7 linked regions of the Homo sapiens genome follow. The gene in region 2 interacts genetically with the main gene of each other region. Each region holds a gene or a part of one and is shown on either strand. Other genes may lie near its edges.

The links.
Region 1: changes in SREBF2 (region 2) and FDFT1 together harm fitness less than expected from each alone (positive genetic interaction), as found in Homo sapiens cells (one large-scale study listed by BioGRID).
Region 3: changes in SREBF2 (region 2) and SLBP together harm fitness more than expected from each alone (negative genetic interaction), as found in Homo sapiens cells (one large-scale study listed by BioGRID).
Region 4: changes in SREBF2 (region 2) and CXCR2 together harm fitness less than expected from each alone (positive genetic interaction), as found in Homo sapiens cells (one large-scale study listed by BioGRID).
Region 5: changes in SREBF2 (region 2) and GPS2 together harm fitness more than expected from each alone (negative genetic interaction), as found in Homo sapiens cells (one large-scale study listed by BioGRID).
Region 6: changes in SREBF2 (region 2) and MTRF1 together harm fitness more than expected from each alone (negative genetic interaction), as found in Homo sapiens cells (one large-scale study listed by BioGRID).
Region 7: changes in SREBF2 (region 2) and FGF3 together harm fitness more than expected from each alone (negative genetic interaction), as found in Homo sapiens cells (one large-scale study listed by BioGRID).

The regions. Positions count from the first base shown.
Region 1 is NC_000008.11:11,809,241-11,812,740, forward strand, and holds part of FDFT1 (squalene synthase), read left to right. Parts: exon of another isoform or gene 1-250; intron 251-426; coding exon 427-610; intron 611-3,500. UniProt on the Homo sapiens protein: Catalyzes the condensation of 2 farnesyl pyrophosphate (FPP) moieties to form squalene. Proceeds in two distinct steps.
Region 2 is NC_000022.11:41,867,605-41,871,104, forward strand, and holds part of SREBF2 (sterol regulatory element-binding protein 2), read left to right. Parts: intron 1-1,006; coding exon 1,007-1,188; intron 1,189-3,284; coding exon 3,285-3,431; intron 3,432-3,500.
Region 3 is NC_000004.12:1,692,231-1,695,319, reverse strand, and holds the end of SLBP (histone RNA hairpin-binding protein), read left to right. Parts: intron 1-479; coding exon 480-546; intron 547-1,606; coding exon 1,607-1,723; 3' UTR 1,724-2,589; downstream 2,590-3,089. UniProt on the Homo sapiens protein: RNA-binding protein involved in the histone pre-mRNA processing.
Region 4 is NC_000002.12:218,132,528-218,136,027, reverse strand, and holds part of CXCR2 (C-X-C chemokine receptor type 2), read right to left. Parts: intron 1,252-3,500; 5' UTR 1,227-1,251; coding exon 144-1,226; 3' UTR 1-143. UniProt on the Homo sapiens protein: Receptor for interleukin-8 which is a powerful neutrophil chemotactic factor. Binding of IL-8 to the receptor causes activation of neutrophils. This response is mediated via a G-protein that activates a phosphatidylinositol-calcium second messenger system.
Region 5 is NC_000017.11:7,312,561-7,316,762, reverse strand, and holds GPS2 (G protein pathway suppressor 2), read left to right. Parts: upstream 1-1,402; 5' UTR 1,403-1,432; intron 1,433-1,643; 5' UTR 1,644-1,710; coding exon 1,711-1,804; intron 1,805-2,165; coding exon 2,166-2,275; intron 2,276-2,359; coding exon 2,360-2,472; intron 2,473-2,603; coding exon 2,604-2,683; intron 2,684-2,774; coding exon 2,775-2,857; intron 2,858-3,041; coding exon 3,042-3,195; intron 3,196-3,293; coding exon 3,294-3,383; intron 3,384-3,471; coding exon 3,472-3,551; intron 3,552-3,638; coding exon 3,639-3,734; intron 3,735-3,923; coding exon 3,924-4,007; 3' UTR 4,008-4,102; downstream 4,103-4,202. Other genes in the region: NEURL4 (neuralized-like protein 4), read left to right, coding at 436-640. UniProt on the Homo sapiens protein: Key regulator of inflammation, lipid metabolism and mitochondrion homeostasis that acts by inhibiting the activity of the ubiquitin-conjugating enzyme UBE2N/Ubc13, thereby inhibiting 'Lys-63'-linked ubiquitination.
Region 6 is NC_000013.11:41,250,077-41,253,576, reverse strand, and holds part of MTRF1 (peptide chain release factor 1, mitochondrial), read left to right. Parts: intron 1-546; coding exon 547-628; intron 629-824; coding exon 825-932; intron 933-3,500. UniProt on the Homo sapiens protein: Mitochondrial peptide chain release factor that directs the termination of translation in response to the peptide chain non-canonical stop codons AGG and AGA.
Region 7 is NC_000011.10:69,816,617-69,820,699, reverse strand, and holds the start of FGF3 (fibroblast growth factor 3 precursor), read left to right. Parts: upstream 1-1,283; 5' UTR 1,284-1,766; coding exon 1,767-1,986; exon of another isoform or gene 1,987-1,992; intron 1,993-4,083. UniProt on the Homo sapiens protein: Plays an important role in the regulation of embryonic development, cell proliferation, and cell differentiation. Required for normal ear development.

The sequences.
Region 1 (3,500 bases), on a different chromosome or scaffold from region 2:
TGAAGCTGCCTCTGTGCACATTACACCCATGAACTTAGACCAGTTGCCTTTATGTATGATCGTATTTATACTGAGAAGTTACTGTGTTTTTTGACTTTCTTTTCTATTTGCTACATATTAGTTCGGTCTAAACGTTTGGTCTTCTGGTCTCCATAGTTCTACATTGGTTAAATGCAACTCACTTCTGGGAGTAGTGGTGACATTCAACTAGTAGGCTTTTTAATAAACTACAGAAGTTCATTACTCTCATGTAAGGAAGGAAAACTAATGTAACTTTCGTTAAGTATGAAAAGCGTTGGATATCCTTATAGTTCTTTAGAGTTAAGGGTGAGATGGGTTTAGAAAGTGGCCAGGCACAAGTTATTTTAAAATAAAAAATCTTTGGCTGTTTGTTCCAATATATTAATAGTTTTCCCTTTTTTACAGCAACGCAGTGTGCATATTTTATCTGGTTCTCCGAGCTCTGGACACACTGGAAGATGACATGACCATCAGTGTGGAAAAGAAGGTCCCGCTGTTACACAACTTTCACTCTTTCCTTTACCAACCAGACTGGCGGTTCATGGAGAGCAAGGAGAAGGATCGCCAGGTGCTGGAGGACTTCCCAACGGTGAGTGGGGTTACGCATCTTGTCTACGGACTGTTGTGTTCATAATTGCTAACGTGGTTGTCCGGTAGCCTCCATACATGTGGAGAAAGGTTAAATAAGCATTCTGAGGGCAGCATAATGTGAGGGTTAAAAACTCCGGTAGCCAAGACTCTGAAGCCAGGCTGCCTGGGTTGGAATCTCAAATCTCCCACTTACTAAACTGTTGGTTACTTACAAAGACTCTCTGTGCCTCAGTTTCTTCATCTGTAAAATAGGGGTAATAATAACACCTACCTCATGGTATTCTGAGGATTCAAAGAATTAACGTAGGTAATGCTCTTAGAATGTTAGCTACTGCTGTTATTATCAGTATTGGAAGTCCAGTGTTTCTTCCTGTGGGAAGACGCAGTCAAATTTTAGTGTTGTGAAAGATTCTCAGGCTAGCTCACAAAAGCCTGCCGACTGTATGATGCAGCCTACCTGTAACACTGCTGGCCTCTTGACTACCCGGAGCCTGGTAGCATGGGACTGCTGCTCACGATGGGCAGCAGCCTGGCATGGGGGCGGTGTCTGTTGGCAGCTAGGGCGAGCCTCTGCCACTTCACCTGTGATCCTGGGCAAGTTCCTTATCTGCTTTGTGTCTCCGTCTCCTCGTTTGTAAAGTTAGAGCTGAGAGGATTAATTTCGCACATATAAAGTACTTAGTGCCTGGTACAGGGTAAGTATTCTGTAAGTATTAGCTATTTGGTCTATTTTGTTGGAGTAAAGTGGGTTATAGTTAAAATCCTAAGATTTTTAAAGTCCCTCAAGTTCATGTGGACATCTGCCTAGGTCCTACTATCCTAGAATTCGCATGTCTTATCACACAAATAACTGATTCTTCCATATCTTATAAATAAAGGTTTGATTTAGCAAAGTCACATGTTGTGTAATAGCTCGAAGAAGCCCTTTTTGTCCACAGTTGCCAGAGCTTTTGGAGAACAGTCCTTATGTTATTGAAACAAACCTAATCTGTAGCTGAGTTGGGAGGGAGCTAAGTGGACAGAGAGTCCTCCACCCAAACAAAAGAATCTTTGATTCTTGGGCATAATGGGAGCAATATTTAAAAAAAAAAAAAAAAAAAAAAAAAGGAATGTTTGGGGAAGACTCTTGCGGTGCAAAGGCTGTTTCAGATTGCTGAGATCAGACCTTAAGTACCAAAGCCCAAATATAGTACAACATAATACAAATGAGAAGAAAATAGCTGAAGAATAATTCGAGTTTATACAGTACAATTCAAGAGAAGAAAGAAAATTTATGACGACTAGCTGGGTGAGAATTAGAACTGTAACCCTGGGAAGGTCCTGGTGATTTGACTCTCACAGGACACCTGATGACCAGAGGATGGGTTTCCTTTGATGGGAAATCTGTGGCGATTCATTGATGGGCCTCTGAATTCTGCTGAAGCAGAGGAAGTAGTAATACCCCATTTATAATGGAAGTGCATTCTCACTTAAAAACAACTAATATTATTCTAGCTGGACCTAGCCTCTAGAAACAGCCAAATTACATTTGACTTGAGTGGATTCATAATAATTAAAAAATTTCTGGGGCATGGGATAAATGTGTTAGGTATTGCTAAGTCAAGGCAGCCCTATCCCCTCAGCAGAAGTGAGGGAATATGAAAGTGTGTGAATGCTAACATAATTTTGGGGAATATCGCCGTCAGATTTCCAGATGATATTCCAACATGTTTGTGAAACTTCAGTGTCTTCCTGTGTTCATACAGTGTTCCAGTGGAAAAATAATGCTTAGTTCTGGAAGGTTTCAGATGTGAACACTGAACTCATCGTTTTCTTTTTTGGGTAGTAGAGTTAGAGATTCCATCCTCTTGAAAGCACAGTTGCCCCGGGAAGAGTAAAAGGGAGCAGAAGGCGTAAGCCAGGCACGGCTGTTTTCACTGTTGTTCACCTTTTGTATCCTTACGAATATGAAGATGTACTAAGTTGTGTGTTTTGCGTGCATATATAATTTTAAGCTACTTGAGTTGTAGGTCCCTCCAGTCTGTGATTCAGTTTGAGATGGGACTGTATGGGAATTAACAGTGCCTTGTCTTCTTAAGGAGTGATTTGTGTATGTGCTGATATAGCTCAGTATGTCTTTGAAACCAGTTGTCTGGGGCTAGGCCTGCAATCAGCTTTTGGCTAAGAGGTCCCAGGATGGAACAAGTAGTGTGAAAGAGGACTGATACCTTGGCCTCACACACAGTACTGCTCTTAGACTGGGGCAAGTGAAACTCCTCACTTCAGAGTGCCCCATTCTAGGCCCCCTCACTCCCAAAGGGGTGAGGGATCACTGGGGCCATGGGAATGTGCTTGTTCAGCTCTCGTGGGCTCTCCTTCTGTACCACGTTCTGGACATCTGGAGTTCCTTGCCCCAAATCCCTGAGCCCACGTCTGCGTCCGCACAGTCTATTTCCTAAGGTCAGTCCATCTCCTCCAGGTGGGAACGTGCCACCATTGACTGTGCCCTTGGGCCTGAGTGATGGCCAAGGGCTGTGTTGGGGAGTGTTGTGGATGGATCCTGGCACCGAGGGCTGGGATATCCTCTCAAATGAATGTGAGGTGCCTCCCAGTGCTGGAGAGAGCGGGATTCAGGAAGCAGTGGAAGGGAAGAGCCTGGGATATGGGGATCAGCTGTCTGTGCCCTGCTGCATTCTGGAATAAAACTCTGAGGGACTAAGAATTCTAAATTCAAACCTGAATCAACCAGGTTGTTACAAAGATAAGTTTGTCAGTGCAGGAGGATACAATATATTTTACTTAAGTTACTAGCTCGATTGATCATTTTTAAATTTTTAGCTACATATAGTATGTGGGCCTCCATTTGTCCTCTTATCCCAGGCCTTGCAGAATTTAGGAATAAGCCTCAA
Region 2 (3,500 bases):
GACCATCCTGGCTAACTCAGTGAAACCCCATCTCTACTAAAAAATAGAAAAAATTAGCCGGGCATGGTGGCGGGCGCCTGTAGTCCCAGCTACTCGGGAGGCTGAGGCAGGAGAATGGCGTGAACCCGGGAGGCAGAGCTTGCAGTGAGCAGAGATCGTGCCACTGCACTCCAGCCTAGGCAACAGAGCGAGACTCCCATCTTAAAAAGAAAAAAAAAAATCCAGCAAGCATAGTAGACACAGGGCCATTCTGATAACTAGTGGTGGAGACTTGAATAAGGCTTGAAATTGGCTAGGCGGCAGCCAGATCTCAGCTGCCACAGTTGAGAACTATTCATTCAGCAAACATCTGAGCATCCACTATGGTGATGAATATGACTTTTAATATAGGTGCAGCAGCTTCAAGTAGCAAGCCTCATGCTGGGCCCTTAGTATGTGTTGAGGGAATGGATGACTGAAAGGGGCCTGTTCTTTCTGTGATGTGCTGCATCCCAGTGCCTTTTCATCATATTTCCCTCTGACTCTGTGGGGAGCCCAGGGTAAGATTAGTATTGCTTTGAATTTCAAAGAATCTTATAGTTCTTCAATGGAGTTCAAGAATTGGGACAGGTGGGGGAATGTAAAGGCAAAAAGCTGAGACAGTCCTCCCAAAGTGCACTTGCCGTCCAGAAAGGATGGAAGAAAATGAAGCCCCAGGGAGTTGTTGATTCTCAACATCTGTTAACTCCCTTGCTGGGTGCAGTCATTTGCTGATTAGCTTCCCTTTCCCCCACCCTGGCACCCAGAGTAATAAAACAATTTGTACTCGTTCCCTCAGAAATTGATGCAGCCCTTATGGGATGTTCTTGTTGTCTAAGCCACCTTGTAAATGGCTGTGCACATCATCTTCAGCAGTAGGTGGGGAGTTGGAATCATTATGAGATACTCCATCCTCAGGTTTCTGCTGCAGCTGCAGTGACAGAATGCATTCCTCATCTCTGTGCCTTCTTTCTCCTCTTCTCCCAAGTCCTTCAGCCTCAAGTCCAAAGCCTGGTGACATCCTCCCAGGTACAGCCGGTCACCATTCAGCAGCAGGTGCAGACAGTACAGGCCCAGCGGGTGCTGACACAAACGGCCAATGGCACGCTGCAGACCCTTGCCCCGGCTACGGTGCAGACAGTTGCTGCGCCACAGGTGCAGCAGGTCCCGGTAAGTGGCTGGAAAGGATTCAGGGAGGCACTGGTTGGGGCTGTTAACTGGTCCTTGGTTGAAGATGTGGTCTACATACTAAGAAGGACCAACCAGAGTGTACACAAAGCAGCTTGTAGGGCGCCAGGATGCACCTGTGAGCAGCGTATAGTGACCTGGCTGAGTCCATATCTGTAGATAGACACTGGCACTCAGGAAAGGCTGGTGCAGTCACTTACGTACACATGTAATGGGCATAAAACTGGAAAGAAATGTGCTAAATTGGTATTTCCCAGATAATTTTCTTTTTCATAGTTTTGTGTTGTGTTTTTTTGTTGTTGTTGTTGTTTTGAGACGGAGTCTCATTCTGTTGCCCAAGCTGGAGTGGAGTGGTGTGGTCTCAGCTCACTATAACCTCCGCCTCCCGGGTTCAAGCAGTTCTGCTGCTTCAGCCTCCCGAGTAGCTGGGACTACAGGCATGTGCCACCACACCCGGCTAATTTTTATATTTTTAGTAGAGACGGGATGTTGGCCAGGCTGGCTTGAACTTCTGACCTTGTGATCCACCCGCCTCGGCCTCCCAAAGTGCTGGGATTACAGACGTGAGCCACTGCCCTTGGCTTTCATAGTTTTCTGTTCTCCATATTTTCTGCTGTGGATCCTGAACATATATTGGGTTGGGGGGAGGGGGGGCATGTATTATTAATCTTTTTTTTAATTTTTTTTTTTTGGAGACAGTTTTGCTCTTGTTGCCCAGGTTGGAGTGCAGTGGCGTGATCTTGGCTCCCTGCAACCCCCGCCTACCAGGTTCAAGCGATTCTCCTGCCTCAGCCTCCCAAGTAGCTGGGATTACAAGCACCTGCCACTGCACCTGGCTAGTTTTTTGTATTTTTAGTAGAGATGGGGTTTCTCCAGGTTGGCCAGGCTGGTTTTGAACTCCTGGCCTCAAACAGTGCATCGATCTCGGCCTCCCAAAGTGCTGAGACTACAGGTGGGAGCCACTGTGCCCAGCTGGGGGACGTGTATTATTTTTATAATCACAAAAAACGTCTTTATGTTATATATCATCGTGGACTATATCCTCTTTTTTCTTTTTTTTTTTTTGAGAGTCTTGCTCTGTCGCCCAGGCTGGAGTGCAGTGGCACGATCTCGGCTCACTGTGCAACCTCAGCCTCCTGGGTTCAAGCAATTCTCCTGCCTCGGCCTCCCGAGTAGCTGGGATTCCAGGCACGCGCCATCACGCCCAGCTAATTTTTGTATTTTTAGTAGAGACAGGGTTTCACCATGTTGGTTAGGCTGGTCTCAAACTCCTGACCTCATGATCCACCTGCCTTGGTCTCCCAAAGTGCTGGGATTACAAGCATGAGCCACCACATCTGGCCTATATTTTCTTACTAACAATTTATCTTAAAAAAATCAGGTTTATTATTTTTGCTTCTCAGCCATGTGTCTGGCTTTCCTGAGTCTTTTCTCTCCTCTCTGCCATCCACCCTACCCATCTCTGCTCTGCTCCTGCTGGGCCACTGGCACCACCCTCTTGAAAGTCTTTCAACCTAAAAACCCATGACCTGGCTGAGCACCATGGCTCACGCCTGTAATCTCAGCACTTTGGGAGGCTGAGGCAGGTGGATTTCTTGAACCCAAAAGTTCAGGACCAGCCTGGGCAACATGGTGAAACCCTGTCTCTACAAAAAAATACAAACAATTAGCCAGGCATGGTGGCACACACCTGTAGTCCCAGCTACTCAGGAGGCTGAGGCAGCAGGATCACTTGAGCCCGGGAGGTCAAGGCTGCAGTGAGCTGAGATTGCACCACTGCACTCCAGCCTGGGCAACAGAGAGCAACCCTGTCTCAGCAAAAAAAAAAAAAAAAAAAAAAAGCCAGGACCCTCATTAGCTAGCCCCTCTTTCTCCACCTGAACCCGGTATTCAGGCTGTACAAAATAGCCGGCTTTTGAAATGGCCTCTATGAAATTTCCTGTTCATTTTTTTATTCTCAATTTCATAAAAATTATATCATTTCTCATTCTTTCTTGGAAGGTCTATGCAGTAAGAAAGGAATGCATAACAGAAGGATAATGCTATCATCCTTTTACTTTTCTTCCTTCTTCATCCAGGTCCTGGTCCAGCCTCAGATCATCAAGACAGATTCCCTTGTTTTGACCACACTGAAGACAGATGGCAGCCCTGTTATGGCTGCGGTCCAGAACCCGGCCCTCACCGCCCTCACCACCCCTATCCAGACGGCTGCCCTTCAAGTACCAGTAAGAGCTGCCTTCTCCCCCACCCTCCTCCCTCCCCCTTTATTCCTGGAGGTGTTAGTCTTCAGAGAT
Region 3 (3,089 bases), on a different chromosome or scaffold from region 2:
TTTCTCCTCTGTGCTGGGAAATTTTTTAGAGACTGGCATGTTTGAAACGATTGTAAGTGGCTTTACCAGTTTGTCCTGACAGATGTCATTTGGGTTTTTTCCCCCAGTGTGACACCATTGTCCCATTCTCTGAGTAGAAACTTGGAAAAATTAGTGATAATGCATAGTATGTTCATCACAGTGCTCATTTCTCCCCCTCAAAAATTGGGCTTATGAGTGTTTCTGTTTCCAAGGATGCTTGTGTGGTGAGCCCAGCAGATCTTTTTGTTGCTTCTCATTGCCATCCGCTTTCTCTTTGCTGGATTGATTGGGCTGGGATTAAGTCTGTCAAATAGTCACTGAAAGCTGACCCCTCAGGGAGCCTCGGGCACACTGTCAGTGTTGTGGCTGTACCATATGGATGGGGTTTGTCTGTAGCGCCCCGTCTCCTGGCTTTGTTAAGTTAGTGCCTGACGCACATGTTGGATCTTGTTTAACAGACACCCTGTAGACCTTGAATCTGCAGAAAGCAGCTCCGAGCCCCAGACCAGCTCTCAGGATGACTTTGTAAGTACTTTGGATAAGTCTTTCAGCTTGGGGGTTGCAGGTGAATTGTTAATAACACATGCTGCCTTATAAACTGAAGTTTGGACTGGGCACGGTGGCTCACGCCTGTAATCCCAGCACCTTGGGAGGCCAAGGCAGGCGGATCACCTGAAGTCAGGAATTCAAGACTAGCCTGGCCAACATGGTGAAACCCTGTTTCTACAAAAATACAAATAATAGCCAGGTATGATGGTGGGTGCCTGTAGTCCGTGCTACTCAGGAGGCTGAGGTGGGAGAATAGCTTGAACCCAGGAGGTGGAGGTTGCAGTGAGCTGAGATGGCGCCATTGCACTCCAGCCTGGGCAACAGAGCAAGACTCTGTCTCAAAAAAAAAAAAAGAAAGAAAACCATGTGCTGCGCGTGGTGGCTCACGCCTGTGATCCCAGCACTTTGGGAGGCTGAGGCAGGCAGATCACCTGAAGTCAGGAGTTCAAGACCAGCCTGCCCAACATAGTGAAACCCAGTCTCTACTAAAAATACAAAAACTAGCTGGGTGTGGTCATGCAGGCATGTAATCCCAGCTACTCAGGAGGCTGAGGCAGGAGAATCACTTGAACCCGGGAGGCAGAGGTGGCAATGAGCCGAAATTGTACCACTGCCCTCCACCCTGTGTGACAGAGTGAGACTCTGTCTCAAGAGAAAAGAAAACCGTTTTTAAATGTATCAGTTTAAATACTGTCTCCTGTCCTGAGACAGCCACTATTTGTGGTTTTGTCTAGGCTTTTACAATTCTTTCTGTGCTTATAAACTATGTACATGGCCAGGCACAGTGACTAGTGACTCCTTCCTGTAATCCCAGCACAATGGGATGTGTGCACATCTAAACGTCAGTGTCTTGTAAATGGTACATGTGGTTTCTCTTTGCAGTGTTATTATTAAAATCTGTCTCAGTTGCACGTGAAGTGTACACCTTGCTGTGCATTACATCACATGATTTACCACATAAGGAGTGGGGTGTAGGAAGGGGCCCCTGTTTTCAGGGTGAGATGAATGTCAACCGAGCCATGCTTCTGTTTTCCAGGATGTGTACTCTGGCACACCCACCAAGGTGAGACACATGGACAGTCAAGTGGAGGATGAGTTTGATTTGGAAGCTTGTTTAACTGAACCCTTGAGAGACTTCTCAGCCATGAGCTAACTGCCCCCTGGCGGCCAGGAAGAGAAACAGCTCCTCCCCGACTAGGTGGAAGGCTGGCCAGGCACCAAGCATGTGTGTGCACTTGTACCTGGTGGTTTCTCTGTTAGCAGTCCATTAGCTCATGCTGAATTATTTTTGCCTTACTTTCTTAAGAAACATTAATTTTATGTATAGTGAGTATATTTTGCATGTTTTAAATTGTAAATGGAGCTAAGTCCAAGAAAGTACTTGAAGCTCTCTTCCAGCGAGCTTAATTGCGTAATCCCTGTTGTCCTCCAGGGTAAGCTGACACGTCTACATAACTGGTTTTCCACAGGCATCTTCAGTTATTGCTTGTCAGGTGGACTGTTTTGGATTTAACCATGTAATCCATGGGACCAATTGAGAGTCAGCTACTTTTATAGGCATCAAAGTATTCTCAGACACCTTTAATATCTTTATGGAAACTTAATTTTTGGCCTTTTATCAATATGTCATAACAGCATTCTGAAGTCAGACATTGTTAAATTGAGCTATTAAACTAATGAGTTTTATGTAAGTTATATGGTCTTAATTTGGTACTTGTAAATAGCACTAGTTAGACTCTTTAGAATACTCCAAGAGTTAGGGCAGCAGAGTGGAGCGATTTAGAAAGAACATTTTAAAACAATCAGTTAATTTACCATGTAAAATTGCTGTAAATGATAATGTGTACAGATTTTCTGTTCAAATATTCAATTGTAAACTTCTTGTTAAGACTGTTACGTTTCTATTGCTTTTGTATGGGATATTGCAAAAATAAAAAGGAAAGAACCCTCTTTCACTGACTGGGGCTGTTGCCAGGTGGGCCAGCTGCCGTGAGAGCTGACATGTTTGGAGGGTCAGAATTGTGTCTGCCTTTCTTGTGTCTGAAGCAAGTGGCACTCAGTGAGTGGCGCTGGGTAAAGGGCCTTCTTTATTTTTTTAATTTTATTTTTTGAGAGTTTCGCTCTTGTTGCCCAGGCTGGAGTGCAATGGTGCAATCATGGCCCACTACAACCTCTGTCTCCCGGGTTCAAGCGATTCTTCTGCCTCAGCCTCCCAAGTAGCTGAAATTACAGGTATGTGCCACCACACGCAGCTAATTTTGTATTTTTAGTAGAGACAGGATTTCTCCATGCTGGTCAGGCTGGTCTCGATCTCCCGACCTCAAGTGATCTGCCTGCCTCGGCCTCCCAACGTGCTGGGATTACAGGTTTGAGCCACTGCGTGTGGCCGGGGGCCTTCTTTAATAGGTGTCACATGTCACATTTGGTCTGATGCTTATTCATCAGCACTGGCATGACAGCCTTCCCTGTCTCTTGGGAGAGACCCTGCAGCAGGATAATCATCAGTCTGAGGGTGCCCT
Region 4 (3,500 bases), on a different chromosome or scaffold from region 2:
GAACGTGGCCTCCTCTACTTCCTGTGACCACAATGGGGGCTGCATTGACACTGAGACCAAGAAGAACCAGTGGACATGAGGCTTGGAATGTGACTGTGAAGAGAAGGGAGGAACCCCACGGGGCTGCACTTAGGCAGGAGGTCTTAGAGAGTAGTGGAAGTGTGCCCTGAAGAAGAGCCAACAAAGGAAGGCCTGCTGTCTTTGGGCAGGGAGTCCTTGCTGATCAAGCCATGTATAGCTAGAATCTTGAGGAGTCCATGGCGAAACTTCTGGCCAATGAAGGCGTAGATGAGGGGGTTGAGGCAGCTGTGAAGGATGCCCAGAATCTCGGTGGCATCCAGAGCCCGGTCGATGTGATTGCGGCGCTCACAGGTCTCCTGGATCACCTGGGTCCTCATGAGGGTGTCTGCCAGCAGGACCAGGTTGTAGGGCAGCCAGCAGAGCAGGAAGATGAGGACGACAGCAAAGATGACCCGCATGGCCCGGTGCTTCTGCCCCATGTGGGCCTTAAACAGCGTACGCAGGGTGAATCCGTAGCAGAACAGCATGATCAGCAGTGGCACGATGAAGCCAAAGGACTGGGGCAGGATCCGTAACAGCATCCGCCAGTTTGCTGTATTGTTGCCCATGTCCTCATAGCAGGCTGGGCTAACATTGGATGAGTAGACGGTCCTTCGGAAAAGTAAGACAGGCAGGGCCAGGAGCAAGGACAGACCCCAGATGCTGAGACATATGAATTTGACCAAGTAGCGCTTCTGGGTCAGTGTGCGTGTGGCATGGACAATGGCCAGGTAACGGTCCACACTGATGCAGGCCAGTAGCAGGATGCCACTATAGAAGTTGACTTCCTTCAGGAGTGAGACCACCTTGCACAGGAATGTGCCAAAAATCCAGCCATTCACCTTGGAGGCGGCCCAGATGGGCAAGGTCAGGGCAAAGAGTAGGTCGGCCAAGGCTAGGTTCAGCAGGTAGACATCAGTGACGGAGCGGCCGACCCTGCTGTATAAGATGACCAGCATCACGAGGGAGTTTCCCAGCAGGCTCAGCAGGAATACCAGGGCATAGATAATGACCACAAAATACTTGTTGATTTCCAGGGATTCTGGTTCACATGGGGCGGCATCTAGTAGAAAAGGGGGCAGGGTAGAGCTGTAACTGTAATTACTAAGATCTTCACCTTTCCAGAAATCTTCAAAGCTGTCACTCTCCATGTTAAAATCTTCCATTTTTGAGGTAAACTTAAATCCTGACCTATAGAAGAGAGATGAAGGTTACTGCATAATAAATTCCCCATATTCTTGCCCATCCACTCAAGAAACTGGGATAGGATTCTTTGTGTTGGCTTGAGTATTACAATGTAGTAATTTTTCCCTTCAAATTTGTAAGTGGTAGCTCTTAGGTTATGAGATAAATTTGGTGATAAATGGTACATTTTATGAGAGGACCATAGTTCTCTTTAATATAAGAGAGAAATTCTTAGCATTTCTTTTAGCATCGCCATCACCTAAAACTTTGTAGAAAGTTCTCTTTGGATAATCCCCACAGAACCCTCAATACTACCTGGATCCTTCAGTGGCGAGCATCTTTGGCTATCAAGGCTGGGTTTAATGTTCAGAAATGTGAGATGTGAGATGTCACTCAGTTCTTTTTTTTTTGTCTTAGAGATGGGGACTTGTTATGTTGCTCAGGATGGTCTTAAACTCCTGACCTTAAGTAATTCTCCTGCCTCTGTCTCCCAAAGTGCTGGGAATATAGGCATGAGCCACTGCACTCAGCCCCATTCAGTTTTTAATCAGGGGATTAAGCAGGAACTCCAAATGGGCTATACCCTCAGAAAAGATCATGGTTTGACTATAAAGCTGAGACATGAATCCCTTTGTTCAATTTTCTAAAAGTTATTTTAAAAGATGTATTCTGGAAAATGGTTTGAACAATTGTGGCATGGAGTTTTGGAAGGCTCGAGCTAGCAGAGTCTTCAGTTAATTAGTAAGGCCCAGCGTTTCTCTTTTGGGTAGAAGGAGACCCGCTTTGGGAATGTCTGTGTAGTTTGGAAAAGTATATTAAAAACAATAAGCAAGCGGGCTGCCTGATTCTCCCTGTGGGTGGAAACGTAACAGGTTATTTGGGGAGCTCTGGGCAGCCATGTGCCACCATGCGGGATAAGCAGACACAGCCAGTCTGCTACCCAATAAGAGAGGGGCAGCAGGAAGCAGAGAAGACAGGGTTTGCACTACCCTTGCTTGGTGGCTTTCCAGCCCTGCTGGAGACCCTTCCTGTCCTGCATGTGTGTGCCTCCATCTAGCCTTGACTCCCCTGTTCCTCTCAGATTTAGTCTAGCTCCTGGGGCTCTGCCCTTGCCACAGGGACAGCACAGATCCTGCTCTGGGGAAGCCTGGGTGTGGAGGGTGGGCTGCAGTTATTCAAAAATATTATCCCAGTGGTGGCTCACACCTGTAATCCCAGCACTTTGGGAGGCTGAGGTGGCAGATCACTTGAGGTCAGGAGTTTGAGAGCAGCCTGGCTAACATGGTGAAACACTGTCTCTACTAATAATACAAAAATTAGCCAGGTATGGTGACGTGCACCTGTAATCCCAGCTACTTGGGAGGCTGAGGCACAAGAATTGCTTGAACCCAGGAGGTGGAGGTTGCAGTGAGCCGAAATCACATCACTGCACTCCAGCCTGGGCAACAGAGCGAGACTCTGCCTCAAAAAAAAAAAAAAAAAAAAAAAAAAATCCCAGTTTCTCAAAGCAGTCAACTAAAGCAATCCAGCTCCCTAATTAGCTTCTTTCTGAACCACAAAATAGATCACCCTCCGGCCATTGCCTTAGAGTAAGGGATGACCACCCTACCACCAACCATGTCCAAGTCCGTAATCTACCCCCAAAATGGAACCCAGTGTGAGAGAAAAACCAGGAAGTTAAAGGTCCCAGAACCCACTTCACACTCACCAGGCTGGGCACACTCAGAAAAAGATGCCCAAGAACAATGTGGGTGAGGAAGTGGAAAAGTCAGAACTCTCCCACATTGCAGGTGGGAATGTAAGATGGTGCAGCTGCTTTGGAAAACAGCTTAGCAGTTGCTCAAAAAAGTTAAACATAGAGTTACCACATGAACCAGCAAACCCCAACCTAGGTATACACCCAAGAGAATTGAAAGCTAATGTTCATAGTAGCATTCATCATTAAGGCCAAAAAGTGGAAACAAACCAAATATCCATCAACTGATGAACGGACAGACAAATTGAGGAACAGTCATGAGCAACTGAAAGACTTTTTGGTCAATGACACATCACAAATACCACAGTGGTCCCATAAGATTATAATACTGTATTTTTAGTGTTCTTTTCCTATGTTTATATATAAGAATACCATTGTGTTATAATTACCTACAGTATTTAGTACAGTAACATGCTGAGTAGGTTTGTAGCCTAGGAGCAGTACTCTACCATATAGCCCATGTGTGTAGTAGGCTATAGCATCGTATACTCTACCATGT
Region 5 (4,202 bases), on a different chromosome or scaffold from region 2:
TTTAGTAGAGACGGGGTTTCGCCATGTTGGCCAGGATGGTCTCGATCTCCTGACCTCGTGATCCGCCCACCTCGGCCTCCCAAAGGGCTGGGACAGGCGTGAGCCACCGCGCCCCGCCAGTATTTAGTATTTTTAAAGGTAATAAGTAAGGACTATGGAAACAGAGAAAGAATGGGGCGGAGACAGCAGTGCGGTTGGTGTGGACATCCTAAGAAGGTGGGAGAGATTCGAGCAAAGGCTTGAAGAAGGAAGTGAAGGGTGTAGCTGAGCAGGCTTTGGGAGGAAGAGCATTTCAGGTAGAACAGCTAGAGCGAAGTTCCCATAAGGTGGGAGTATTTCCTAGGTACAGCAAGGCTTGTGTGGTTGGAACAGACTTTGCAAGGGGGAGGTGATGGGGCGAGAGGCTTCACTCCCTTATTTTTTCTTGTCTGACAGATTCCGGGACCCCAAATCCCAGCGGACGCACCAGGCTCAGGTGGCGTTCCAGGTGTGTGTGCGCCCTGGCTCCTACACCCCGGGACCCCCTTCCGCTGCCCTTGGAGAACCTCCTGACCCTCACTTCAGTCCAGCCGAACTTGAGTGGGTCACTAAGGAGAAGGGGGCCACACTCCTCTGTGCCCTGCTGGTACGGGTGGAATGAGGGGTGAGACACCACTACTACAAGCACAGTCGGGCCGCGGGCCCATGGACTCTGAGTGGCGACTGCCTCCACCTCATTCCCGTGACTCGTGGCATGCGCAGGTGCTGGAGCTTGGCAGCCGCGCAGGAGCATGTAGGCAGGCTCTCAGATGTAGGTGGCAAGTGGCACAGCTCCATGTCCGGAGGCCCAGCACTCCGTCTGATGGGAGGAGTCGTGGGAGCCCAGCTCCAGGCCCTGGTACCCCTCTTCATGCACTGATTTGGGGAACATGACTCCCTTTTACTCCCCTACCCCACATCACTTAATTTATTTCCGTTTTTGTTTCTGGTTACTGTGAATCCCAGAGGAGTCTCTCCCTGTGCCCACATGAAGCTGCTTTTTCCGGGGCCACCGGGCGGGAGTGGGGAAGGGTGGGCGCACGGAAGATGGGGGCCTCTGTACAGTTGTTACTGACTCTGATTTCTAAGGAGCCAATAAACACCGTCTCAGAGCCTCCGCCTCGGCCTCTCTCTCGCGCGCCCCTCTCCGGAGCCCGCGTCCCCTGGGGTGCCACCAGGTGGGCCCGCGAAATTAAAGAGAGCTGAGGATGCCAAGGCCAGTCTGCAGCCGTCGTCGCTCACGTTCCCGGCGACGGGGTTTGTACGCCGCGGGCACCCGTCGCAGCGCGCTTCCGCCTTCTTTCACCTGTGAGGTCGGCCGCCGCCGTGACTCCGGAAGGACTCGGCCGGGCCGCCGGATGTGACGCAGGGGCCAGGGCGCGTCGGAGCCGCTGAGAAAGCGCAGAGAAGGCGGGTAGGAAGGGCAGTCGTCCGCGCTGGCTGGGCAGGGAGCGGCAGCAGCGAGCCGGGGACCCCGGCGCCGCCCGCGCGCGGTGGGACTGGGGCTGCGGTCCCGGCCGGGTGGCGGGCTCCTGGGACACGTGACCGGGGCGGCGAGCGGGCCGGGCGGACGGGCTTCCGCCTGGGCCGGGCGCGGCCCCCTCTGAGCGCCCGCCTCCCCGCAGGCCCCGTCTGAGGTCTGGCAGTCAGAGACAGCCGGGCGCCCACGGCCCGAGCGCCCACGGCAGCACCATGCCCGCACTCCTGGAGCGCCCCAAGCTTTCCAACGCCATGGCCAGGGCGCTGCACCGGCACATTATGATGGAGCGGGAGCGCAAGCGGCAGGGTGAGCCGGGGCCATAGCAGGGGGACGCACGGCCCAGAATGGCTCCTGTACCTCAAGGCTGGCCTCAACCCACCGGCCAACCAGCGCGCCCGCTGCCGAGCGCAGAGGAGGGAAGGAATAGCCCCGTTGTGGTGGGATTTAAGCGTCCTGTTCCACGCTCCAGAACCCTTGAGATGGGAAGGACCTTGGAGAGCACCTGATAAAGCCTTTCCGTTCCCTATTGCCGCGATGGGGAGCTTGTCCCCTCGAGGCAAAGAGCATACAGGCGTGTTGGGATGACTGGGTTTTGCTGGTCTTCAATCTGTAACGTTGGAATTGTTTTCACTACCCTGCCTCTTCTTCATTCTGCCTGATTCTCCAGAGGAAGAAGAGGTGGATAAGATGATGGAACAGAAGATGAAGGAAGAACAGGAGAGAAGGAAGAAAAAGGAGATGGAAGAGAGAATGTCATTAGAGGAGACCAAGGAACAAGTAAGCAGTCCCTTGAACTTTCCCAGCTTTGATTTCTTCGTTTGACTCTCCCTGCCTTCATCTTCTTTTCCCACCCCATCCCAGATTCTGAAGTTGGAGGAGAAGCTTTTGGCTCTACAGGAAGAGAAGCACCAGCTTTTCCTGCAGCTCAAGAAAGTTTTACATGAGGAAGAAAAACGGAGGCGAAAGGAACAGAGGTGGGATCAGAGTGCTAAAAACTGAAATGGGGGCCAAGTGGAACTGGGATCAGGTAGTAAAAGAACCAGTGTTTAATGGCAAAAGAGAAGGCATCTGTCCTTGACTTTGACCTGTCTTCCTTTCACTCCAGTGACCTGACCACCCTAACATCAGCTGCATACCAGCAGAGCCTGACTGTTCACACAGGAACTCATCTCCTCAGCATGCAGGGTGAGGACTAAAGAAACCACCAGATGGAACCGGCCTTCTTGGAGGTCACAGCCTCCCATTTCAGCATCATGAAGCCCTTCTCCCTTTCTAGGGAGCCCTGGAGGACACAATCGCCCAGGCACCCTCATGGCAGCTGACAGAGCCAAACAAATGTTTGGACCCCAAGTGCTTACGGTGAGAGTAGGATTGGATGCCTAGCCCCTAGTACTTCCATCCATGCATCCTTGCCACCAGTATTCAAGTCACAAACATATCAAGCACTTAAGTTTAGGGGGAAACGGGGCATACAGATACACACAAGTCACTGGGTTTCAGCTTTCAAGGAGTTTGTAGGCGAGTTCTCATTCTCCTTCCTTAGACCCGGCACTACGTGGGCTCAGCAGCTGCTTTTGCAGGGACACCAGAGCATGGACAATTCCAAGGCAGTCCTGGTGGTGCCTATGGGACTGCTCAGCCCCCACCTCACTATGGGCCCACACAGCCAGCTTATAGTCCTAGTCAGCAGCTCAGAGGTGAGTAATAGGAGGGATGGGGCTTGGCCTTCCTCAAGGTCAAAGGAGGAATGCCATTCAGTAAAAGATTTTAATGGCTCTGTCTTTTCCTTTCTCAGCTCCTTCGGCATTCCCTGCAGTGCAGTACCTATCTCAGCCACAGCCACAGCCCTATGCTGTGCATGGCCACTTTCAGCCCACTCAGACAGGTGATAACATCCCATGCAGGAGCTCTAGCTCTCAGGTCCTCCCCTCCCTGTTTCATTCTCATCTCACATGCCCCTCTTCCCCACCTAGGTTTCCTCCAGCCTGGTGGTGCCCTGTCCTTGCAAAAGCAGATGGAACATGCTAACCAGCAGACTGGCTTCTCCGACTCAGTGAGTATGGCACCTTGGGAGGTCAGGGTTAGGGATATGTTAAGGGGAGCTTCAGTATGCCTCAGGCCCTGACTCTGTTCTCTGCAGTCCTCTCTGCGCCCCATGCACCCCCAGGCTCTGCATCCAGCCCCTGGACTCCTTGCTTCCCCCCAGCTCCCTGTGCAGATGCAGCCAGCAGGAAAGGTAAGAATGGTAATAGAATTTACCTGTCAGAATCCCTACACTAGGGATCCGGAAAAGCAGGATTAGGTAGGACAGGTGGCCCACATCATCTGGTTTTTCCTTCCTCTTTGGGGGTGGTTATCAGTAGGGTATTAAGTGGAAGGGAGAGTATGCCCAGTGACAAAGCCCTCTTTTCATCACCACCACCAGTCGGGCTTTGCAGCTACCAGCCAACCTGGCCCTCGGCTCCCCTTCATCCAACACAGCCAGAACCCGCGATTCTACCACAAGTGACCATCAGATTATATCTTCAACACCACACCCCCCACCCCATCGTGGGTGAGGGTATCCCCTGTGTGTCCCAGGCCAATAAAATCTACCTGCCACTGCCCCTGGCTGCTGCTGTTTGTGTTGCCTCCCACCCAACTGTCTGGAATAGGTCAAGGTTGCTTGGAGGGTGGGGGGATGGCTGGCAGGTCCACAGCAAGT
Region 6 (3,500 bases), on a different chromosome or scaffold from region 2:
ATTAGGAAGCCCTTTTTCTTTCTGGTCACAGCTGAGAAACTCATTTTGAGCCTTATCTTGGGAGCCCTCAACATAGTCTTTAATTAGAGCGTCTCTGCTGAGAAGGCACAGCATGGCTGGTGTCTGCTGTCAGTTATAGCAGAAGATAATATGAAATCATTTCTCAAAGTGAAGACTTTCAAAGCCTTGCTTCATTCATTAGATGAAAGAAGCTACTGTTCAGAACTAATTATAAGCGCCAAAATCTGAAGAAAATTGAATGGAACACCCTGGACTTTGATCTGAACTTCTGCATTCTAGAAAATTAAGATAATCTGATAACAGTGCAGAAAATATACTGACAAGTAACTCCATTGTTAACATGAATTGATCACCTATTTTAGGTCTAATTAGTTCTACTTATTATAGCATTTTTGGAATACCCTGTTTGGGATACTATATGATTTTGCCAATTATTGATTTTTTTCAATGTTTTTCGGGCCTTTATTTAATTCAGTAATAGTGTACCGGGGAAAATATACACACAAATGCTGATTTTTATTCCAGCTTTTCCAGAGCCTTGTGCCAAAGGAGAAATATGACAAAAATGATGTTATTTTAGAGGTGACAGCTGGAAGGACTACTGGAGGTCAGTAAACTTACTTTATTATTTAAATGATCTAAAAAGTCCTTGAATTTTACCTTATTTGATAACACTAACTTTAAAAGTCCATTAAATGTATTTAAATTTGGAAATAGTTATTCTTTATTTCCTAAAGGACTTAGTCTTAAGGGTGGCTTTCCGAAATTTGTCCTGACTAAATATTTTTCGTATTTTGTTTTAGGTGACATCTGCCAACAATTTACCCGAGAAATATTTGACATGTACCAGAATTATTCGTGCTATAAACACTGGCAATTTGAACTTCTGAATTATACACCAGCAGATTATGGTAGGCATATTGAGGAATTTGCCTGTAGGAGATACTGAAAATTATTTTACCTCTGATCTTGATTAGAACCATATTGTCCCATTTTTTTTTGAAACTTTTGGTGTATATCTACTAAACACTGTGGCATAGGCTCATCAATCACAGTGGCTTACTATTATAGCAGAGTTGTTAGCTAGGAGAAGACAGTAGAAAGGAGGGAAGCATTTGCTTAGGGAGAAATATGTGAATTAGAGAAAATTCCCCTGAGGAACTTAGATACGTATCTTGCCTCAAAATCATTTTTCTCTATTATTGAAAGCAAAGGTATATTAAGGTTTTTACTTTAAATAACTTTATAAAATAATATAAGTATTACTAATTAGACTAAGTGGCTAATGTGTTTGATTTTTATGAGAATGCGGAAAAAGTTAATCATTTGTCTTTATTTTCAAGAAACTTCTCTTTTGGCTGATAAAAATTTATAATGGCTGGGCACTATGGTTCACGCCTGTAATCCCAGCACTCTGGGAGGCCAAGATGGGTGGATCACCTGAGGTCAGGAGTTTGAGACCAGCCTGGCCAACATGGCAAAACCCTGACTGTACTAAAAATACAAAAATTAACTGGGCATGGTGGCACGTGCCTGTAGTCCCAAATACTCGAGAGGCTGAGGCAGGAGAATCGCTTGAACCCGGGATGGGGAGGTTGCAGTGAGCCAAGATCACACCAGTACACTCCAGCCTGGGCAACAAAGTGAGACTGTCTCAAAAAAAAAAAATGATACAACATAGACAAACAGTGCAGTTCTTTACCTTTAAATACTCAAGTATATTGATTGAAAACATGATAATAATTCTCTCATTTGTCTCATTCTTTTAATCCATCTGAAAGTTTTCCTCTGCTTGGTTACACAGTGATACATTGTAGTAGACAGAGGAGTCATCAGTAATAAACCACAAACTATCAAAGTGGGGAGAGAGGATTCATGTAAGTTGAGCAGTAAAGGGAAATAAGAACCAGCCTACAGCATAAGGAAGTTGTACCTGGTACAGATTTCAGATACAACCAGTGGTCAGGAAAGGGGATTATCCATGAGAGCAGAGAGAAGAAACAACCTGAGCAGCAGCATGCTGGTGGGAGAGGTCTTGGTGTGTGGGGAAGGGAGTGGTGGGGAGGCCAGTTTACCCATAGCTTGTCAGGGAAGTAATCGCTGAAGTAGGTTTGAGTGGATAGATTTTGAACAGCTTTGATTGATGGGCAATAGGAAGCTGTTGAAAATTGCATTAATAAGAATATGATTTGATAAGATATATATTTTAAGGAGATTATTTTGACAATAGTGATGGATGGATGGATGGATGGATGGAAAGGCTAGATTTAGTGCAGACTGCAAAGAGGTTATTAGAGTAATCCAGATATGACTAAGAGTTAGAATGGGGAGTAGAATTATCTGTCAGAGACCTGCAAAGGATGAATAGGCATAATTTGCTAAGTAACTAGATGTGAGAGGGGCTGTTGTTTATCCAGTATGTCTTGTGTGCACAACTTCACACCCTTGTGAAATAGATATTACTAATCTCATTTTACAGATGAGGATCTAGGCTCAGAGAGTAAGTAACTAATCCAAGACCACACAATAAGTAATGGCAATCCTGGGATTACATTTTAGTCTGTTTGATCCAGAGCTGCACTATATCCCATTATTCTATTCTGACACAAAGGAGATGAGCCACAGGGAGTCTAATCTTTCTAGCTGAGAAGACTGTGATACTCATTCATGCCATTGAATGGAATAGAAGTTGGAAGGCAGAAACCATTTGGAAAGAATAATGATGAATGGTTTTTGAATCATTAAGTTTGAGGTTATAGTGAGCATCCACTTAGAAATAGTCAGTAAATAGGCTGGGCACAGTGGCTCACGCCTATAATCCCAGCACTTCGGGAGACAGTTCGAGACCAGCCTGACCAACATGGTAAAACCCCGTCTGTACTAACAATACAAAAATTAGCTGGGTGTGGTGGTGCACACCTGTAATCTCAGCTACTCGGGAGGCTGAGGCACGAGAATCATTTGAACCCAGGAGGCACGGGTTGCAGTGAGTCGAGATCACACCACTGCACTCAGCCTGGGCGATAGAGTAAGACTCAGTCTCAAAAAAAAAAAAAAATTTGGAGTAAATATTGAAATTGAGTAACCAGATCTTTGGTGAGACAACAGAACTCAGGCAAGCTATTTGATACCTGTCAGCTCAGAGATAATGTCTGATACTGAGAGAATAAGTGAGGGAGAGTCTATAGAGAGAGAGCATTCAGGGCAACAAGCTTTGGAGAATGGCCATGTTTAGAAGGATAGACCAGTTAGCAAAATAAAAAGAGGATTCAAGATAATCAGAAAAAGGATGAGGACAGTAAAATATTATGGAAGCAAAAGAGGAGAGAGTTTCAAGGAGAATGTAAGAAGAAACAGCAGCATTATGAAAAGGAGAGTAGTAGAAAATATCCTGAGTGAACTCTGATAGGTGTATTTCGAATGAGACTTTCAAGAATAAAAGGGAGATAACCTCAATAACAGGAAGAGAGATTCTGTTC
Region 7 (4,083 bases), on a different chromosome or scaffold from region 2:
CTTGGGGGCGCCCTCCTTCAGGATGGCCACCTGGACCCTGTGCACGCTGGAGTGGGCTCACAGAGGACACACTGCCCTGTGTGTATTGGGCCATGGGAGCTGGACACGTCCCAGGGGTGTGTGCTCACTGCCACAGCTCATGGTGCCCTGCACACTTGCCTGACCCCAAACCCTGATGCAGATGGCAGGCTGGGGAATGTCAGCCCACCCAACTCACCCCAGAGCCCCTGGTCAACTTGGAGCCAAAGCTGTGGCCTAGACCCCTGGACTCCACAGCGTGCCCTCCTCTGGGGCAGGGTTGAGAGAAGCAAATCCCCTGTGCTGGCCCCTGCTTCCTGCTGGCCCCAGGACCCTGGGGGACAGAGGACCAGGAAGCAAGAGAAATGGGTGGGGACATGGCTTTTCCCGATACTTTTTGAAGCCCCTCTTCACTGGGCCCCCTGAGATACACCTTGACCCCCACACAGTCCAGGGGACCACCTGGGCATCTGCACTGATTCAGATCCTCCAGGCCAGGACTCCCCCACACCCATTCCCAGCTTCTACCGGGTTCCTCTTGTCATCACCCACCCGCTGTGGCTACCAGACTCCCTGTGCTTTTCTCTGGGTGTTCTCCGCGGCTCTGTCTTCTTTCCATCTCCCCTGCCTCCTCTTTTTGGCGATCTCTGTCATTCACATTTTCCATGTCTTTCCCGTCCTTTCCTCCTCCGTTTCTGTCTGTCTCTATCTGCATCTCTTTCTCTCTAGGGCTCTCTGTCGGCGCCCACTTCTCTGGCTCTCGCGTCCCTCCTCCCGCCTCCCCAGGCCCCTCTCTGGACCGTCACTGGGACGGGATCCTCCGAGGCCTGCCAGACGAGAGCTAACCCCACCACTCCGGGTGCCCAGTTGGTGTGCGCAAAAGGAGATAGCATCTCCAGACCCGGCCTGCCCCGCGCCTTGCAAGGCTGAGGACAGCGCCACTGCTCCTGCAGGAAGCGCCGGGCGCAGACACAAACCCGGAGCTCCCCACGCGTGCCCGCGCCCCGGAGCCTCCCTGCCGCCGCCCTCCGCGGTCCCCTTCATTATGCGCCGCCTTTAATGGGCGTTTGTCAGCTCGACTTCCCCGCAAGTTGTTTTCACGGACATCAGTCATCGGCGGCGGCCCCATTGTGCAGGGGGATTGATGGGGAGCGGGAGGGGGTGACAGGGCCTGGGGCGGCCTCCTCAAGGCCTCGGTCTATAATTTTCGGAGGCATAATTGGTCTGGGGGAGGGGGCGGGGGAGGGGCGGGTAGGGGACCTTTCAGAGCCAGGAGGGCTTTCGGGGGCGTGGGGCGCGCTGCGGAGCGGAGCCGCGGCTCGACGGCGGTGCGCTGGCGGCGAGTGTATGCAGACGGCGCCCGGCCCGAACCCCGAGCCCCGCGGGGCTCCCCACCCGCCGGCCTCCCGCCCCTCCCGCGCCTCCGCCTGGGGACCACGTCGGCCTTTTGTTGGCGAACCGTCCTTTCTTTCAGCGCTTTGCGCAGCAACGGAAATTTCATTGCTCCTGGGTGGAAATTAAAGGGACTCGCGTTCCCTCTCTCCCTCTCCCTCTCCCACTCTCCCTCTCTTTCTCTCTCTCGCCCACCCTTCCCCCTTCTTCCCCCACCTTTCCCGCGAAGCCGGAGTCAGCATCTCCAGGCGCGGGATCCCGCTCCGAGCACCTCGCAGCTGTCCGGCTGCCGCCCCTTCCATGGGCGCCGCGCTCGCCTGCAGCCGCCGCCGCCGCGGGGCGGGCGCGATGCCACGATGGGCCTAATCTGGCTGCTACTGCTCAGCCTGCTGGAGCCCGGCTGGCCCGCAGCGGGCCCTGGGGCGCGGTTGCGGCGCGATGCGGGCGGCCGTGGCGGCGTCTACGAGCACCTTGGCGGGGCGCCCCGGCGCCGCAAGCTCTACTGCGCCACGAAGTACCACCTCCAGCTGCACCCGAGCGGCCGCGTCAACGGCAGCCTGGAGAACAGCGCCTACAGTGAGTGCCGGACGCTGCGGGGCCCCGGGGGAAGCGGCGCCGGGAGGGGTCGGGCCCGGGAGAAGGCGCGCTGCGGGGCCCCGCGGGGGAGGCGGCGCCGGGGAGGGGTCTGGCCCGGGAGAAGGCATGGTGCGCCCGGGGTGTCCGGGAAAAGACCGTCTGCCTCCCGCTGCCAGAAGGGGAATGCCAGGGTGCCCTCCTCAACCTACACGTCCGGGAGAAGAGCGCGCGCTGGGGTTCGAGCAGAACTCGGGGGCATGGGCGTTCACGTCCGAAGAGGGCGCCGGCGGCTGTCAGAGTCCGTCCCCGGTCCGGCCCGCTGGTCTGAGGGGACGCGAGCTAGGCGACCCCGGGGCTCCAGGCTCTGCTGCTTTGGGCAGCTCTGACAAGTTTAAGCCCTTTGAATGTGTCGGAGAAAAGGAGCCGGACAAGGCATTTATCATCCTCTTTATTATTTTGACGACTTCTCCTCCTCCTGCCGACCCCTGGACGCCCCGCCGTCCCCTCCGCCCTCCCCGCTCGCGGCTGCCCAGGTGGCCGCCCCCGCTGCTGCCTCTGCGCGGAGGACTCTTGCCCTGCGGAGCTCGGTTCCCTGGCCGCGGCCGCCACCGACAGTTATTCCCCGCGCTGGAATCTGCACCTCCCCCGCCTCCGCCCTGGCCGCACAGCGACAGGAGGGTGGAGGCCCTCGCCGTCGGGACGTGCGGATCACGAGCGCGGAACGGTGTCCGCCCGGGCCTGGGGGTGCAGACACACACACTCCGGCCCCCGCACGCAGGACCCGCGGCCCGGGCTGCGCTCACCGCGGGAGTCTGCCGGACTACACGGTTGGGCTCCTCTGGTCACAGGGACCTGAGGCCCGCGCCGAGCCCTTTGAGGAGCAGGATAGCGGAGCTCAGGGCCCGGGAGGACCGCGTGGGGAGCGTGGGAGGGCAGTCAAGACCACAGCTGTCCTCGGGTGCTCCGCGCGGCGCTCGGCTCCGGCCCCGGGCGCAGGAAGCGGTTCCGCCGCTTGAAGGTGGCGGCGGCGGCCTCAGCAAACCGCGGCTTCCTCCAGGAAAGCCGCAGCCCTGAGAGGGCGTCCTGGGGACATGCGCCTCCGGAGCCGCACGGTGGGCACCAGCTGTCACCAGGGGGTCCGAGTGCGCGGAATTCGTCTCACTAAGACACTCCGGTTCTCTCCAAAGCCAGGCTCCCCCTCGGAGTCGCACAGCATCCAAACTTCTTGGTGTAGGCTGCTCACGGGGAGGGGAGGGCGCGCGCCCGCAGCCGCCCCTGTCCTGCGTCGAGACTCGTGCTTCGCTGGTCCCCGGTCAGGCACCGCCGATGCCGCCCAGCCTGCGCACTGGGAAGGCGGGAGGCTCGCAGCCTGCACCACAGCACCCCTGGGCTGGAGCAAAAGCCCGGTGGTGACCGCGTCTGTGCTCGGACCGCGTGCCAGGAGGGCGCTCCTGAGAGGCATGCCTTGGAGAGGGTGCAGGCAGTCGCCCCAATCCCCTCGCAGCCTCTATTGGGAGACAATGACCCCAACCCGTCCTTTGATGTAGTCCCCCGCCCCCAGCCCCCACCACAGCACTCGTGTATCCAGAAGGAAAGGCGGGAGGGGAGATTTAAACTTTCTTATCCCTGGGGAGTGGGTGAGACCCGTCCAGCTTCCCTCTGCGGGCTCCAGGGTCTAAACTGGCTTCCTGCCCTTCCAGGTCCCCCGGCGAGTACAATGATCTCCCGCCAGGTCTATTGCCAGCATGATCTGGGTGGCAGGCACCCTGGCTGTGTTATTGCCAGTGGTTTATATTATCAGCCTGGCTCATCAGGGCCCAGCTTTCCCGCTGGCAGGCACAGGCATTGGGGACCGTGCAGTCCCAGAGCTCAGACTCCCATGGCTGCCGCCAGGGCTTGATTTCCCGCTCAAGCACATGTGCAGGGGCCTGACAGTCACCCAGCCATAGTGGTCCCCACTTGCTTGTCTGTCGGATGATGATGGCAGCTGGCAAGGTGTTGTGAGGCTCGAATGAAAGCCAGGGTGCAGGCAGCGTCAGCAGGTGGGAATGTTAATTTCATTGTTACCCTCCCAAGTTTGAATGAAGAGAAGCCTTC